Homo sapiens: one gene and its partners. The protein of the gene in region 3 purifies or fractionates together with the protein of the main gene of each other region. This does not show direct contact. Each region holds a gene or a part of one and is shown on either strand. Other genes may lie near its edges. The genes, in order: POLA1, FHIT, RABL2A and AKAP11.

Evidence for each region.
Region 1: the proteins of RABL2A (region 3) and POLA1 purify together in Homo sapiens (affinity purification with mass spectrometry, with the first as the bait; one large-scale study listed by BioGRID). This does not show direct contact.
Region 2: the proteins of RABL2A (region 3) and FHIT purify together in Homo sapiens (affinity purification with mass spectrometry, with the first as the bait; one large-scale study listed by BioGRID). This does not show direct contact.
Region 4: the proteins of RABL2A (region 3) and AKAP11 purify together in Homo sapiens (affinity purification with mass spectrometry, with the first as the bait; one large-scale study listed by BioGRID). This does not show direct contact.

Annotation. Positions count from the first base shown.
Region 1 is NC_000023.11:24,990,898-24,994,249, reverse strand, and holds part of POLA1 (DNA polymerase alpha catalytic subunit), read right to left. Parts: intron 1-3,352. UniProt on the Homo sapiens protein: Catalytic subunit of the DNA polymerase alpha complex (also known as the alpha DNA polymerase-primase complex) which plays an essential role in the initiation of DNA synthesis.
Region 2 is NC_000003.12:60,012,926-60,016,493, forward strand, and holds part of FHIT (bis(5'-adenosyl)-triphosphatase), read right to left. Parts: intron 1,340-3,568; exon of another isoform or gene 1,293-1,339; coding exon of another isoform or gene 1,281-1,292; intron 1,228-1,280; coding exon 1,082-1,227; intron 1-1,081. UniProt on the Homo sapiens protein: Possesses dinucleoside triphosphate hydrolase activity. Cleaves P(1)-P(3)-bis(5'-adenosyl) triphosphate (Ap3A) to yield AMP and ADP. Can also hydrolyze P(1)-P(4)-bis(5'-adenosyl) tetraphosphate (Ap4A), but has extremely low activity with ATP.
Region 3 is NC_000002.12:113,626,010-113,630,071, forward strand, and holds the start of RABL2A (rab-like protein 2A), read left to right. Parts: upstream 1-1,256; 5' UTR 1,257-1,391; exon of another isoform or gene 1,392-1,459; intron 1,460-1,605; exon of another isoform or gene 1,606-2,544; 5' UTR 2,545-2,597; coding exon 2,598-2,704; intron 2,705-4,062. UniProt on the Homo sapiens protein: Plays an essential role in male fertility, sperm intra-flagellar transport, and tail assembly.
Region 4 is NC_000013.11:42,275,138-42,278,705, reverse strand, and holds part of AKAP11 (A-kinase anchor protein 11), read right to left. Parts: intron 1-3,568. UniProt on the Homo sapiens protein: Binds to type II regulatory subunits of protein kinase A and anchors/targets them.

The DNA of each region.
Region 1 (3,352 bases), on a different chromosome or scaffold from region 3:
ATTAAAATGCCCAAAAGGGGTGGAAAAAGAGAGGGGGGCTGCAACAGAAAGACAATTTGAAAGTTCTAATGATCTGAGTCTGGGAATAAACAACAATGGCCCCAACCAGTGTCGGCTGCCTCCCGGCAGGCCAGAGCCACAGGCCAGCAACCCCGTGCATGTGAATGACACAAATGCATCTGATGACTGGGGAGAGCACATTTAAAGAGCTGCGGTAATACGGAGCAGGGGAGGAAAAGAGAGGACATAGCTCCTGATGTGTTTACCTCCTCTGCTGATGGGATATTGACTTTTCCCACCAGGTTGGTTAGAAAGGGGACTATTTACGCTGCCACACAGCAGAGTTAGAATGACAACCAGCGTCACTCGGTGCTCTTCCTCCTAAAAGACAACTGTGACCGCCAGCATATCCCATAGCCAGTCAATACGGCCAAGGCACCATTCCACGCCAGTTAGAGATGCAGATAAAAGCTCCCACTTGCTTCCCCAAAGAGAATTTAATCAATAACATATGGAAGGTCTTCTAGGAAACAGAACTGGACTAGCTGTCACAGGCTGCGTCAGGGACAGGGGCTGGTGGGGGGAAGGAGTCACCCCTTCCTGGTTTTTCTCTTCCCCCTTTAGGCACCTGGGCCACCCACGTTAGGCCTCACATTAAACTGTTACCCTGTTTCTGTCAATACTATATCCACCACTTTAGAACTCAAGGGAAAATACAGGTGTTAACTGGTGGAGGCCAGTTAATGTGGCCAGTAAAACCCTGATTCCTTTTCCTGCTTTGATTTTGAGAGTCAGCCTATCAGTAACGACGCCATCACCTCAGGTGCTGCAGGTCAGGTGCCCAATAACAACTGTTAAAAGATTCCAACATGCCATTAGGCAAGAGCCAGAGAAGATCCGCAGCCATCCCATCCCTGTCCACAGAGATGCCACTGGCCCTGGTAACTGCTGTCTCCGCCACCAGCACCACAAAGCCAACCTTTGTCGAGATCGGGGAGGAAATGCTCTTCCTACACACAAGTGCGTCACTGAAATATACTCTAATGGCTTGAAGTATCACCCAGAAATCACTCATCTTAATACATCAGCAAAGCTAATCTCCTTTTTAAACTTTTCTTGAGAATAACATTCGAGGAACGTGTATATAAAGCTTATTTACTCTGATCCTTTCTACATGCTCTGATTCCCTGTGGTTATATGTTAATTACCAAAAATATTCTGTCCCTAACCCCTATGAAAACGATGGAAAAAAAGGGTAGCCTAGATACTAATTATTCACAAAATATTTTATCAGACTACAAAATGAACTGCTCATTTAAAAGTTGATTTCTATTGATTAGAATCTAAAACCTCAAAATAATGAAAGTTACATTCTTTTCTATATGGGATGAACTAGACCATCATCTGTAGGTTGACCTTTCTTAAATATTTTATATAAAAGTCAACTGATCAAATAAAATGCTAGCTCTATTAAAATAATGGAGTATTCTCCCATCTAAGGAAACTAACTCTACTTCACATATTTTAGTTCCATGTCAGTAAACCAAAAATCTCTTTTCAACTTTACTCTTTATAAAACCCTTTTTGGACTTAAAGAAACACACTGAACTAGAAACCACGAGGCAAAGACATTTTAACATCGCCTACTGGTTATTTTCTTTTAATTAAGGCAGGCTTAGGCACACAGGCAGCAGCCGTCTCTGTTCTGAATGTCTGTTTCATTTATTTCTGTACAAAGGTATCAAACAACAGTCAGTTATAATTGATTCTGTCAGGTGTTATACAGTCAGTCATAATTGTCTCTGTGTAGAGGTGTGTCAATTTACTATATCTGAATTAAATATTCTGTCAATTATGAAATCAGGTAATAATTTCAGTCAGTTTTTTAATTGCATGGCTTCCCACCATACAGTTCTCAGTTCTCCCACCTTTTCCAATCCATAGCCTCCCTCCCTCAATGCAACGTGAGCTTTGCAGTAAGGGGTGGAATGCAGGAAGCTTTAGAAAAATTTGAAAGAAAACTGCACCCCTCTACGCTCTCTACACGTAGAGCCATCCGACCTACAGAGAGCTGCTGGAGCCTCTGGCCTGCCTTTTTCCTGAATATCGATCCATATAACTGAGCTTCCGGCTATGCACAGTACCTGAAAGATTTCAAGTGACATCCATATTTTAAACTCAAAGACATTTAGGGCCCCAAATCAAATGGCAAGTACATAAACATTTCTCAAAGTAAGAAATGAAAAGAAATAATCTTTGAGTCAATTCTTATTTAGAAAAAAAAAATTCACAAGGCACAGTGCCAGGCACACACAGTGATCAATGTGTCTATCAATTAGCCAATGCCTAGAGGACCATTCTCACCCATTAAATCACATCTTAGATGCTAAAATATTTCTGAAGGCTTGAAGAGTCTGTTAGTCCACTATCCAGTTCCATTCCTACTTAGAAATAATTATCTTCAGTTTTCTTTCTTTTTTCTTCTTTTATGTTGATACCAAAATACAGCCTTCAAGAAGAATAAAATATCCATGGTTTAGCTCAAGTGCTCTACTAGGCTGTAGGCTGATCTGACAAGTATTTAGAAGTGTGATTATAATTCTCTCCACCATTGGTCTGGTTCATGTTCAATAAACACAGGCTTGCTGCAGCCTGGTGGTGGTGAACAGTGACCCTTCACACTCAAAGCAAATGGAGGTGCCATGGGGCCCAACTACCAGGAAGGGTTGTTCAGTGGAAGTTTGGGGAAGAGCAGAGGCCGATGCGAGAAGGGAGGAGACAGAATAAAGCAATGTAAAGAATGCCACTTCTATAGACAAGAATAGAAGGTAAGAGTCGTGCCCCTTACCATGTTTCAGTGGCAAAAGAGTCACCTTGAAAGAGATAAAAAATTTCCTTTCAACTGGATGAAGTGATTCTCTCAGGGTTGGGTTTTGGGTGTTTGCATTTGTCATGTCGGAAGAAAATTGCCCATGCAGCCCCCTTGCTGAGGTTATAAAAAGTACTGTCAACCATACTGGACAGAATTTTTTTTTGGGTGGGTGTGGGGGGGGAGGTTGTAGAGAAGGAAAAAAAAAAAAGAAACACATTGTGCAGGATCATTAAGCACTGTTGTATAAATAAAGTTAGAAGATCAAACGAAAGAGGGGACTCGGGTTAAATGCTGGAAGACAAGCTTAAATAAAGTTCTAAGAAAAAAGCAAGGCACGCTGTAATTCCAAGAACCTATTACTTCAGACAATTTACTTCAAAAAATAAAATCAGAATGGTAAATGATTACCAAAAAGCAATCATGTCATCATCACTGAGAGATGGAATAAAATAATTTTTTGTGAAGTGGCTGAATGAGAGC
Region 2 (3,568 bases), on a different chromosome or scaffold from region 3:
TGCCTTCATTTAGTCTCTCCAGAAACACGGTTTGCAACATAAGCTTGATAAACCCACTCTGAACTGAACTACCTGCCTGAAGGGGACTCAAATGGTTTGACATACAACACATACACACAAAGCATTTGGGGGAAGTTTAGCTACTCTTAACACAGACATGGCAGCAAAAAAAGAAAGAAAAAAATCTGTTTGAGAAGAAGATGAGCACTTTTAGTCAGAGCCTTCATAACCTGAAAACACTGGCTTTCTTTATCTGGTCTCTTTGAAGCTCTATGGTAAAGAGCTAAGGAGGGGAGGAAGAATGGCAAACATTCAGTTTAACTAACAGGCTGAGTACAGAGTCCTCACATTTTGAAAGTGTGTCCTTCTAAAGGGCAATTACAGAGTCATCCAATTTCAGAGCCATGAAGGACTTTATACATTGATACCCCAGCCCTTTCCATAGAGGGCCTGAAGGAGCTCATGGTATGTTACTACGGATTTACTCAATTCCCTACTGATGACTCACCATGGACATCCTTCTCCCAACCTGACAACTGTTGGCTCAACCTCTGCCTAAAAATCTTCAGTGACTGGGGATCTGATTTCTTCACTGGTCAGTGGGCCACACCCAACCAGTGAATCTAGCTTCTAACTAATCTGTGATCAATCTCTGCATCTTGAATTAAAGACAGACAAAAGGTAAGGCCCAACCTAAGCTGCATATCACTGCCACCCTGGAATTAGAGCAGGGCTTAGTCTATGCAGTGCTCAAAAATTAGTTACCATGGAATGAAAATGATTTTTCCAGTCCCAGTTCCAGTAAGCAATTTGGAATGTCTGAATGTCCATTAAATCACTTATCCATTACTCCCACCTGCTTGGTAAACAAGCCTCAGACATCACCTTAGACACTATCCCACGGTCCATCTTGGGGCCAATGGACAGTAGGGTTGCCCTGCATTAGAAATCTCTTTTTTTGGCTGCTACCTAAAATACAAACAATCACATCTGCCCTCCTGGTAAGATATCAGGAGGAGCAAGCCCAATGCCGGGATATGAAAGGGAAGAAAAATCATTTCTGAGAAATCTGTACACTCACCTGCATGGAAAAGGTGAGAGAGGTCCCATGGAAATGTTTTTCCACCACTGTCCCGACTCTCTGGGTCGTCTGAAACAAATCGGCCACTTCATCAGGACGCAGGTCATGGAAGCGCTCCACTGGCCGCAGCGGGCACACAAGGACATCTGTAGCAAGGTCTGTTAAGGCCCATGCTGCTGGCTTTGGGTAGTGTTCTTACCAAGCAGTTCATACCCACAGGATTGAATCCTCTCGGACCAGGGCCTGAACTCTCAAAGACTAAGGAATGAAGAAACAGATATTTACCATCCACTGAACTCCAGAGAGTTGAAAGAGAGCTCCCATACATGGATAATTACACTTTGAAGGAGAAGCTGTGGTATGCAGAAGAATTTCTTGCAAAAGAAAGGGACATTCGTGTACAGACAGACTCAAGTGTATGGTGAGATAATTATGCGAGGAGGCAAGATCTATTCTAGATCATTCTCTCTTGACCCCTATTCTAAAGCTGTGTCCGCTTCAGCAGCCAAAGGCACTAGGTTGAAAAAGCAACTGGAATATCTACTTGGTTTCTCTAGGTAGAACATGGGGATAAATTTTTAATTTAAATTATCTCTTTAGAGAAATAAGAAAATTATGCAATGAACATACAAAAGTAGATGTTTATTTTATTTTTAAAAGAGTATAGACATTCTGAAAATGTACAGTGAACTTTATCCATAACTAAGAGAGGTGCCATGTGGTTAAGCAATTTATGACAAGAGTTCCTCAGACTAATTTTTTTTTTAGAATCCAAAAGAAGACATTTGAAGGTAAATCATGAACGAAAGGTTGTCTGTTTATTCAAATAAAGCATTCTTAATGCATTCTACAAGTTAGACAAGGCAACGTATTTACACTATTGGTCTCAGCAACATATAAGATCTGAGAAAAAAGGATAGAAATTTGATTACTTCTTGATAGGAAATTAATATTCACTGTTACACCATCAATAACATTTCAGTCACTATACACACATGTATGCACACATGTGTATATACACACACTATATATATAAATATTTGTTTAGTTTTTAGATACTAACAAGAGAAACAAACTCTTGTACGTTTTTCTGTTTCTTTTTTCTTGTTGTTTTAAGACAGCATGCTCCTGCCTGGAGCTAAGCAGCTGAGGGGCATAATAAAACCATAATTCTGCAATTGCTAGTCTCACTAGAATATCAACCCCATTCCGCTATTGGTAGAACTCAGAGCCCAAGGGGAAACACAACTGAGCTCAGCTGGTCAGGCCTGATTTCCATAAGAGAGAGGGGAAGAGAAAGAAGAAACTGATTAATTTTGCTCATAATCAGGAAATTCATGTCAATGGTAAACTAGGAAAAGAAGCATTTTTAAAATCAGAGTTCATTTTTCAAGAGAGGAGAAGGGAGGCGTTCACCCACAGGGCATCTGATACTTAAAAAGATAATTATCCATCTTTGGCAGGCCCGCTTTATTATCATGGGTCAATGAACCATTTAGAAATGAAGAATTTCCTTTCATTTCCTTTGAGCAGATTGCCAGCCTCCACTCCCACGAAGCTGCTTTTTCTGTGTTAAAAGGGACCCTTCCCCATATTCCTCCTCCCTGATTTGAATTACACCCTCACTTAGGCCTGACTTCACCAAACCACAGCAAGGGTGACAACCATGCAAGCTTCCAACGAAGTCCATAAGTGCTATGTTAGGCTATGTTCACACACAGCAACTCGGTGGGGGAGGAAGACATTTCACTTCAACAATGGCTTACTGTGAAAACTGGTGGAATAAATCAGACAACCTATGTATCTAATGTAAATTTAGTAATATCAATGACATCCAAAAATGTTTTTTTTCAACACCATAAAAAAACTTATTGTTTGTCAATTTTGCTTGTTTGCATGTTGCTCCTAGAAAAACAACTCAGGGAAAGCAAATTAATTAGAAGAACAGCAGATAGCTTTTGTAATTCTAATGCCACTTTTTATATGCCAATTGTTTTAAAATAATATCACAGATGCAATATAATTTAATTTGGAGCCTCTTAGGCCTTGTTAATGGGTAAATTCCATATTATACATAGGCTATGAAGACACATTTACTTCTGGATCCTGTTTGCTTGGGATTATCTCCTCTGTCAAGATTTCTTAGCCAACATGTAGGATAACCTTTAAAGAATTAAAGTTACTATATTGAATTGAATAAATGTTTTATCCAGTACATATCATGTGTGAAAACTTGTGGAACTGGTTACCACTTCTCCCTATAATCTAGAGTATAGAGTTTTTTTAGCAATAATATTTTTTAAAGGAAGCGAAGGTCAATAGTTATAATTTAGGTTGTATAGCTGACAAGGAGATTTCTCACAGTAGATGAAAACCAAAGGCGACTTCTTAGAGCAGATGAGATTTAAACTGGACTTTAAAAATTGGGGAGTGATTTAACCAGTGGATTGGGCTGGCAACCTACTCACTCATCCATCCCAACACTGC
Region 3 (4,062 bases):
ATGTCTCATGTCTCCCTAAAACCAAGCTGTGCCCTGACCACCTTGGGCACATGTCGTCAAGACCTCCTGAGGCTGTGTCACGGGTGCACGTCTTTCTAAATTACCTGAAACCATCTCAGATAGGGTTCACACATCCCTTTCCCGAACCCTCCCAGGAGCCCCTCGTGGGCGCCCAGGTCCTGCCTGCTGTTGTGGCCCAGGCTCACCTGGAGCAACTCGACTCTTCGTTACAGCCTCGTGAACCTTTCAGTTCCTAAAGCTGTCTAGCCTGTGAAAGGAAAATGAATCTGGGGGCCCCAAAATCACTAAGCTAAAGGGAAAAAAGCTGGGAACTGCTTAGGGCAAACCTGCCTCCCCATCTATTCAAAGTCACCCCTCTGCTCACTGAGATAGGTTAATATGTGATAGCCTCCTTTGCGGAGGCTATTCAGAAACCCGAAAGAATACAACAGTTTGTCTCTCACCTACCTGTGACCTGGAAGCCCCCTCCCTGCTTCGAGTTGTCCCGCCTTTCCCGAGGGAACCAACGTTCATCTTACATATATTGATGTCTCCTGTCTCCCTAAAATGTATAAAAGCAAGCTGTGTCCCGACCACCTTTGGCACATGTCAAGACCTCCTGAGGCTGTGTCACGGGCGTGCGTCCTCAACCTTGGCAAAATAAACTTTCTAAATTGACTGAGACCGTCTCACATATTCGAGGTTCACAAGCCCATGCATGGGGACGTCCCCTGGGGTAGCGCCCCTCCTCCACTGAGCTCACTCGCTTCCTCCTTGTGTGTTTTCTTCAGAAGAAATTTCACAGCTACTTGGTCCACACCTGTCTGCCCCACAGGAACCTCTCTTCTCCACAGGCACATGGGCGGCGTACCTGCTGGGCTGTGTGGAGAGGACCGGGTTCCTCTCCTGATTCCTGCTCAGTTAATAACGAATGTCGACAAGTCGAGAAAATTGCTCAAATTTACCCCATCAAAGAATTAAAAACTGGTGAAAGCTTGACCTGCGCCCCCCACCCCTGACGTGCTCACCGCTCCACTCCCTCTAGGCGGGCGGCACCCGCTGAAGCCTCAGTACCACACCCACAGCCAGGAGCCCCAGTCCCGCACTCGGCCGCATGCGCACTCCCTGCGGCCCTCCCGCCAGGCGCCGCGCTGGGCAGCCAGCGCCCCGGCGGGGTCCTTCAGGCCTTCGGCCGGGCAGCCTCCCTCGGGGTCCTTGCGCGGTTGCGTAGCAGCTGCGAGGACGCGGGGCGAGCCGGAAGTGGAGTGCGCTGCGGTGCGAGCTGGGCCGGCGGGGTGGTTCGAGAGCGCGCAGAGTCCAGACTGGCGGCAGGGCCCGAGGGGCCGACCCGCAGCGTCCCTGGTCTCTCCAGCCCTCACTCGGAACCGCACGTGAGGGCAAATCCGCCCCGGTGGCTGGCTTAGCACGCGGGGACAGCCCCTCCGAGGCCTCCCTAGCGGTGTGGGCGAGAGGGCGTCCGGGTCGGGGGAAGCACGGAAAGGTGGCTTCGCGAGGCTGTTGTGGGGGGCGGGACGGGCAGCCTGGCGATGCCTGGACATGGTTGGTGGCCAAAAACATTTATCGAAAGATAGCATACCCACTTAGATGGCGAGGACATCGACAAGCAAGTCTTCGCCCGTAAGCGGTGGCTCACGCCTATAGTCCAGGGATGCCGAGGAGGGAGGATCGCTTGAGTCCAGGAGTTGGAGGCTGCAGTGAGCCGTGATCGCGCCACTGCACTCCAGCCTGGGCGACAGAGTGAGACCCTATCTCTAAACAAAAGAAAGAACGTCTTCAAGCATGGAGCCATGAAGCTGGATTTGGCTTTCTGTCGCTCTCTCTACAGGGTACAGGTGAAAGGGGGCAGACCCCTCATCATGCTTTCCAGGCATCTGCCACTTCCCAGGAATTGTCTCCCTGGATAAACAAGGCGAAGTCCCTGGCTGTGCAGAAGCAGTAGCTGTGTGGTGGCACAGTCAGGAAAACTCGGGGGCCCTGTTGGTATTTTCTACCCCTGACCCGTGTGCATACTTCTGTCGTAGCTCTCACCACAGTAGACTCTGCTATCATTGTGTCTTCCATCCTCTGAACCCTGTGCAAGGTCTGCTCATGGTGAATGCCCAGTAAGGCTCACCTATTGCTGCTATCTCATCATCATATCATTTCTATGTGCCCCCCTAGCTAAGAGTCTGGACTGTGGTTACATTCTCAGGAATGTCTGCAAAGTCATATTTAGGTGTGAGGAGAGTAAAACAGAGCTAGACATAATGTTGCACACAGCCTTTGGCACTGGATGCCTGGTGAATGTCTTGTGCAAATGGGTAACGTGAGGAGCAGCATTTGGGGTGCGCAGGACTTAACTATTTGTGTATAACATATTACTGATGCCTGTGTGTCATCCTCTGCTACTCCAAGTCTAGTAGCCAATTGCATACCATATCTCAGTCTGGCACTGAGGGAAGCAGTCTGGATGGAGGTACAGCTGGAGATTTGGTTGAGGGGACTTATCTCTGACAACAGCCTCTTGTTGATCTTCCCAGACAGTGACAATACCCTCCCCTCCCTTGGGCTGGACCCCTCTCTACAGCTAGGAGCCAATGGCAGAAGACAAAACCAAACCGAGTGAGTTGGACCAAGGGAAGTATGATGCTGATGACAACGTGAAGATCATCTGCCTGGGAGACAGCGCAGTGGGCAAATCCAAGTATGTTGGGAGATTAGGGAATAAATACCAGCCCCAGAGAGGGTCCAGGTCATTTAAAAAGTCCTCCAGAGGCAGAGGAGCATGGCTTCTTGGGGCTGGTGAAGGAGCAGTCTTGGCTGGAGCCCAGATGTTCATGGGGGAACGAGGGGAATCACATGACCCGTTGTGTGTGTCGGGTGGAGGGGGCAGGTCATAAGGACTGAGGAATTTGAATGTTTCCTCTGAGCCCTGAGAGAACGTGTGGAGCAACTGAGGACATTGTATGTGGTTTGTGGGCTGAGGGATGGCAAGGGCGGGGAGTGGGAATGGAAAGACAAAAGTGACTATGCCACCGTGACAGATTGGGTAAAGGTGGTAAAGATGCTTTCTTGGAGGGACTCTCTGAAATAGAGAAAACTGGGTAGAACTGACGATTGACTATAATCATTGTGAAGACTGGCTTCTTCTTGTAATGAATTTCGGTGCCTACATGCCACCTGGAGAGGTGAAGGGAGGCTCTGCCGTGCTGCCAGCTTGTCTCCATGAGACGTCCTAGTTCTCACGCCTAGGACTGCTGAGGGCACATGTCCATTTCCGCCTTCATAGCATGACGGTACACTTGCCCCTGCCCAGAGAAGTGGTCACGTTTATCTCCCAAGTACTCCAGGCCCACCTTGGTTTCTACCTTCATTTTTATAGTCAAGTCCTTTGACTCAGGTAGCTGTGAATAATTCTCTGGGGGCTTTGCTGGTTTTTAGGCCATCTCCATGAATTTGAATTCTCTGTCTCTCTCTCTCTCTCTCTTCCCCACCACACAATCACACACTGCAGCTCTGGTTTAGAATTTTTTTTTTTTTTTTGAGACGGAGTCTCGCTCTGTCCCCCAGGCTGGAGTGCAGTGACGTGATCTCGGCTCACTGCAAGCTCCGCCTCCCGGGTTCACACCATTCTCCTGCCACAGCCTTGCGAGTAGCTAGGACTACAGGCGCCCGCCACCACACCCAGCTAATTTTATTTTTGTATTTTTAGTAGAGACGGGGCTTCACCTTGTTAGCCAGGATGGTCTTGATCTCCTGACCTCGTGATCCGCCCACCTCAGCCTCCGAAAGTGCTGGGATTATAGGCATGAGCCACCGCGCCCGGCCTCTGGTTTAGTATTTTATAGTTACTTTGACCATCCTCAACAGCACGCCTGTACAGTAAAAGTGAGGGTAGGTGTTGTAGTTTGGGAAGGTTACCCAATAAATAATACCCCCTTTATCCCCACTCAAGTTTAAAACAACAAAGAATAGAAATGGCAGGCAGGTGTAGAGCAAATTGCCACTTTAATAACAAACAGAGCTTTCGGAGAATGTATCTTGGTATACCCAGCTCCCAAG
Region 4 (3,568 bases), on a different chromosome or scaffold from region 3:
ATTCTTCATTTTTCAATCCCTTTTAAACAGTTAAAATATAACTGTTTAAAAATAGTAACAATTAATTAGAGGGTTTAAGACAGACATATTGATAAAATGTATGACAAAATAGGATAAAAAATGTGGCAGGGGAGATGGAGACAAAAAAAGACTGTCATAGATTTCTACATTAAACATGAAGTGATGTTATTTGAAGAAAACCTGTAATAAGTTATCTTGTAAACCCTAACACAAACACTAGAAAAATAAAACAGAATAATACCTAATAGGTGAACAGCAGAATAAAAGTGATGTTATCCCCCTTTTTGCAAATAAGGAAGCTAAGTTCCTTTCTTGGGTACAGACCTGTTATTTGACTTACAAAATCTAAAACTACTACAGCTATCAGATACTATTTTGTTTTTCAAAACAACAGTCAATCGTATAAAATGATTTTAGTATGTCTTAATATCTATTAAGATATTTGCTTCTTTATAGTTTCTGCCTTTTTCCTTTTTAATCCTCAACCTCATTCCTGCATTCACAATATATATGTTCTTACCGCTACAGAGTTTCTCAATCTCAGCATTACTAACATTTTGGGTCAGATAAGTCTTTGTTGTAGGAGGCTGTGTATGCATGGTAGGACACTTAGCAGCTTCCTTGGCCTCTACCCACTAGATGCCAGTAGCACTCAGTTGCAGTAACCAAAACTGTCTCCAAATATTACCAAACATTTCCTTGGGGAGCAAAATCACCACTTACCCTATTTTAGCACTTTAGACTACAGTGCCTTATGTAACAGTTAAATGTCTACATGTCTATGCCCTGCACTGGACTGTAAGTACTACCAACGTTCAACACATACATTCACCAAGCGTCTAAGTAACAGTGATTGGGATACAACAGTGAATTTCATTCCATCGCCATGCCTTACTCATCTCTGCATTCCCCAAAGGCCTTACTCATAATAAGCAACTATAGATTTACTGAAGTGAACGAGCTGTACGGTGAAGAGAAATTTCATCAATGACGTGAATGCAGACAGGCATTTGGTGGCAAAAGCAACATCACCAAATAGAAAATAGGGCCACTTACCTAATGACTTTTTACAAAATTAATCCAAGAATATTTGTTCTGTCACTTTTGTTTTCCCAAACAGTCACAGAGAAAAATTATTGATTTTTCAACTGCATTCCAGATTGAGATCTACTTATAAGGTATGTTTGAGCCCAACTAGCCACTGGTATTGAAAGGAATAACATGGGTCTAGTTGACAAAGTACTAAGTGTGAATGGCTACTGACTTCAAAACTACTTATTCAGCAACAATAAACACAACTTTTAAACATGCAACGGTCCATTGTTAGAAGTTAATTAGAATAATCAGATGAAGGCAGGAGGATAAAACAGTTAACATTTTCATAATAAAAAACTCATTAGACCTACATTTGAATACAGTTTTAAGAAATCACTGTAAAGGATATATGCCCTCAAATGATTATCTTAGTTTCACTATTGAGTGTGCATCTGTAATATATTTGACTTTCAAAAATATTTTCAACAACTGATTTATAATAAAACTTTGTATATGTGTATGGCAATATTATAAGGATGATATGCTATAATTAAAATGCTATGTAATTGAATACCTACAAAAAAATGCAACAACAAAAAACTAAAATCTTGAGATTGTGCTTTCAACATGAATATGCTCCCTAGAAAATGGAGTAACATTCTTAATCTTGTACGTAGCCCTATCCACAAGACTATTTCTAACAGAAAATATGTTCAGAATTTTAACCCAGGAACACATTTCTTTTTATCAGTGACATCTATGACGCCATGACTCTAAGAGTATATTGCTGAAAAGGCATTTAAGTAGCTCTTACAGATATAAGGATCTATCCTAAGCTGCCAGTAGCCGAAATAAGTCAACAGATCTACTTTGCAGATGGGCCAGTCATAGGAAGCACCCAAAAGCCCACACAGAACCTATTAACTAACAGGGTATATTACAGCATAAAAAAAGAAGAATGTGAAAAATAACTTTAAGGTTTTAAGCCTGGGATGCTGAAAGAAAATTTTTTTCTTTGCAAATCAGAAGGTAAATCAGAAGGCTTTGCAAATTAGAAGGTAACTGGAAGACAGTATTTTATATCAACATAGGAATATCCAAGAGGCTAGGTACAGTGGGCGCATACCTGTAATCCCAGCACATTGGGAGGCCAAGGCAGGTGGACGGCTTGAGCCCAGGAGTTTGAGACCAGCCTGGCCAACACGGTGAAACCCCACCTCTAAAAAAATATAAAAATTAGCTAGGCGTGGTAGCACACACCTGTGGTTCCAGCTACTCGGGAAGCTGAGAAGGGAGAATCGCTTGAGCCCTGGGAGGAGGAGGTTGCAGTGAGCCAAGATTGCGCCACTGCACCCTAGCCTGGGTGACAGAGCAAGACCATGTCTCAAAACATATAAATTATATAAATAATAATACCCAAAAAAAGAACTAAAAATTAAGAGATTTACTTGGGGTCAGAGATGGAGATGTTACTCTAAGAATAATCCACATATAGAGAACCTGAAAGCTGGTCTCAGCGACTGGGAAAGAACAGAAATTCAAGAGAGCATCTATGAAGACAACCATGATAAAGGGTTCCAGGACCGGCATAAAAGGAACCACAAATAAATGGCAGTCAGAAAGGTAGGTGAGGTAGAGATTTAGAAGAATTTAGTGTCACTGAAGTCAAGAAATGGTTTTAAGCATGAGTGGTCAGCACTGGACTTCTAGACTTCTTGAGGGCAGAAATTCCTTCCTCTCTGAACACGACCAGAAGCCTGTATCACAGTACCTGCCACACGGTATGCTCTCAACAAATACTAATACCGTACCCTTGCATTGTGCCTGCCATATGCCAGACACTGTTTAATTGCTTTACATACATGAATTCATAATTCTCACCACAGAAGGTGCTATTATGCCCATTCTACGCATAGGAAAACTGAGTCATCAAGCATTTCAGTAATTTGCCTGAACTCCCACACCCAGGAGAATCTGTCCTGTAAAGAGACTACTGGTTAGATCTGGTTAGAACATTACCAAGCTGAGAGCAAGTTCAATGCAATGCCAGAGGAAGAACTCAAATTGCAGGATGTTAAAGCACACCTGAGGTATCCATCACTTCCTCCCTGTCCACTCTCCTTTTGTTAAATATGTTGGCATGGCCAGTTTAAAAGGAGCAGCCCTGCAAACTGTGAGACAAATCTAAGTCTCTTCCTCATCCATTTTTCCCATTCCTATCTTTCCTCACTCTCCAGCCAACTGTGCTAGAAGCAGAAACCTGACCAATTGGATTCTCTCTCTAGAAACATAACTGAGACTTGGAGATGTTTGCTGAGAACCATGTTGCATAGTCAGTGAGTCTGATGTTGGCATCATGGCAAACCAAAGTCTCATGCAAATCAAAGTTTTGGGGAAGTGGAAACCAAGAGCTTTAAAGAGAAGGCCAATCTGAAAGAAACTGGAACAGACCTGCGTGAGTAGCAGAGACATAAGACCATGTGCTTCCAGAGAAAAACTGGAAGAGTAACTG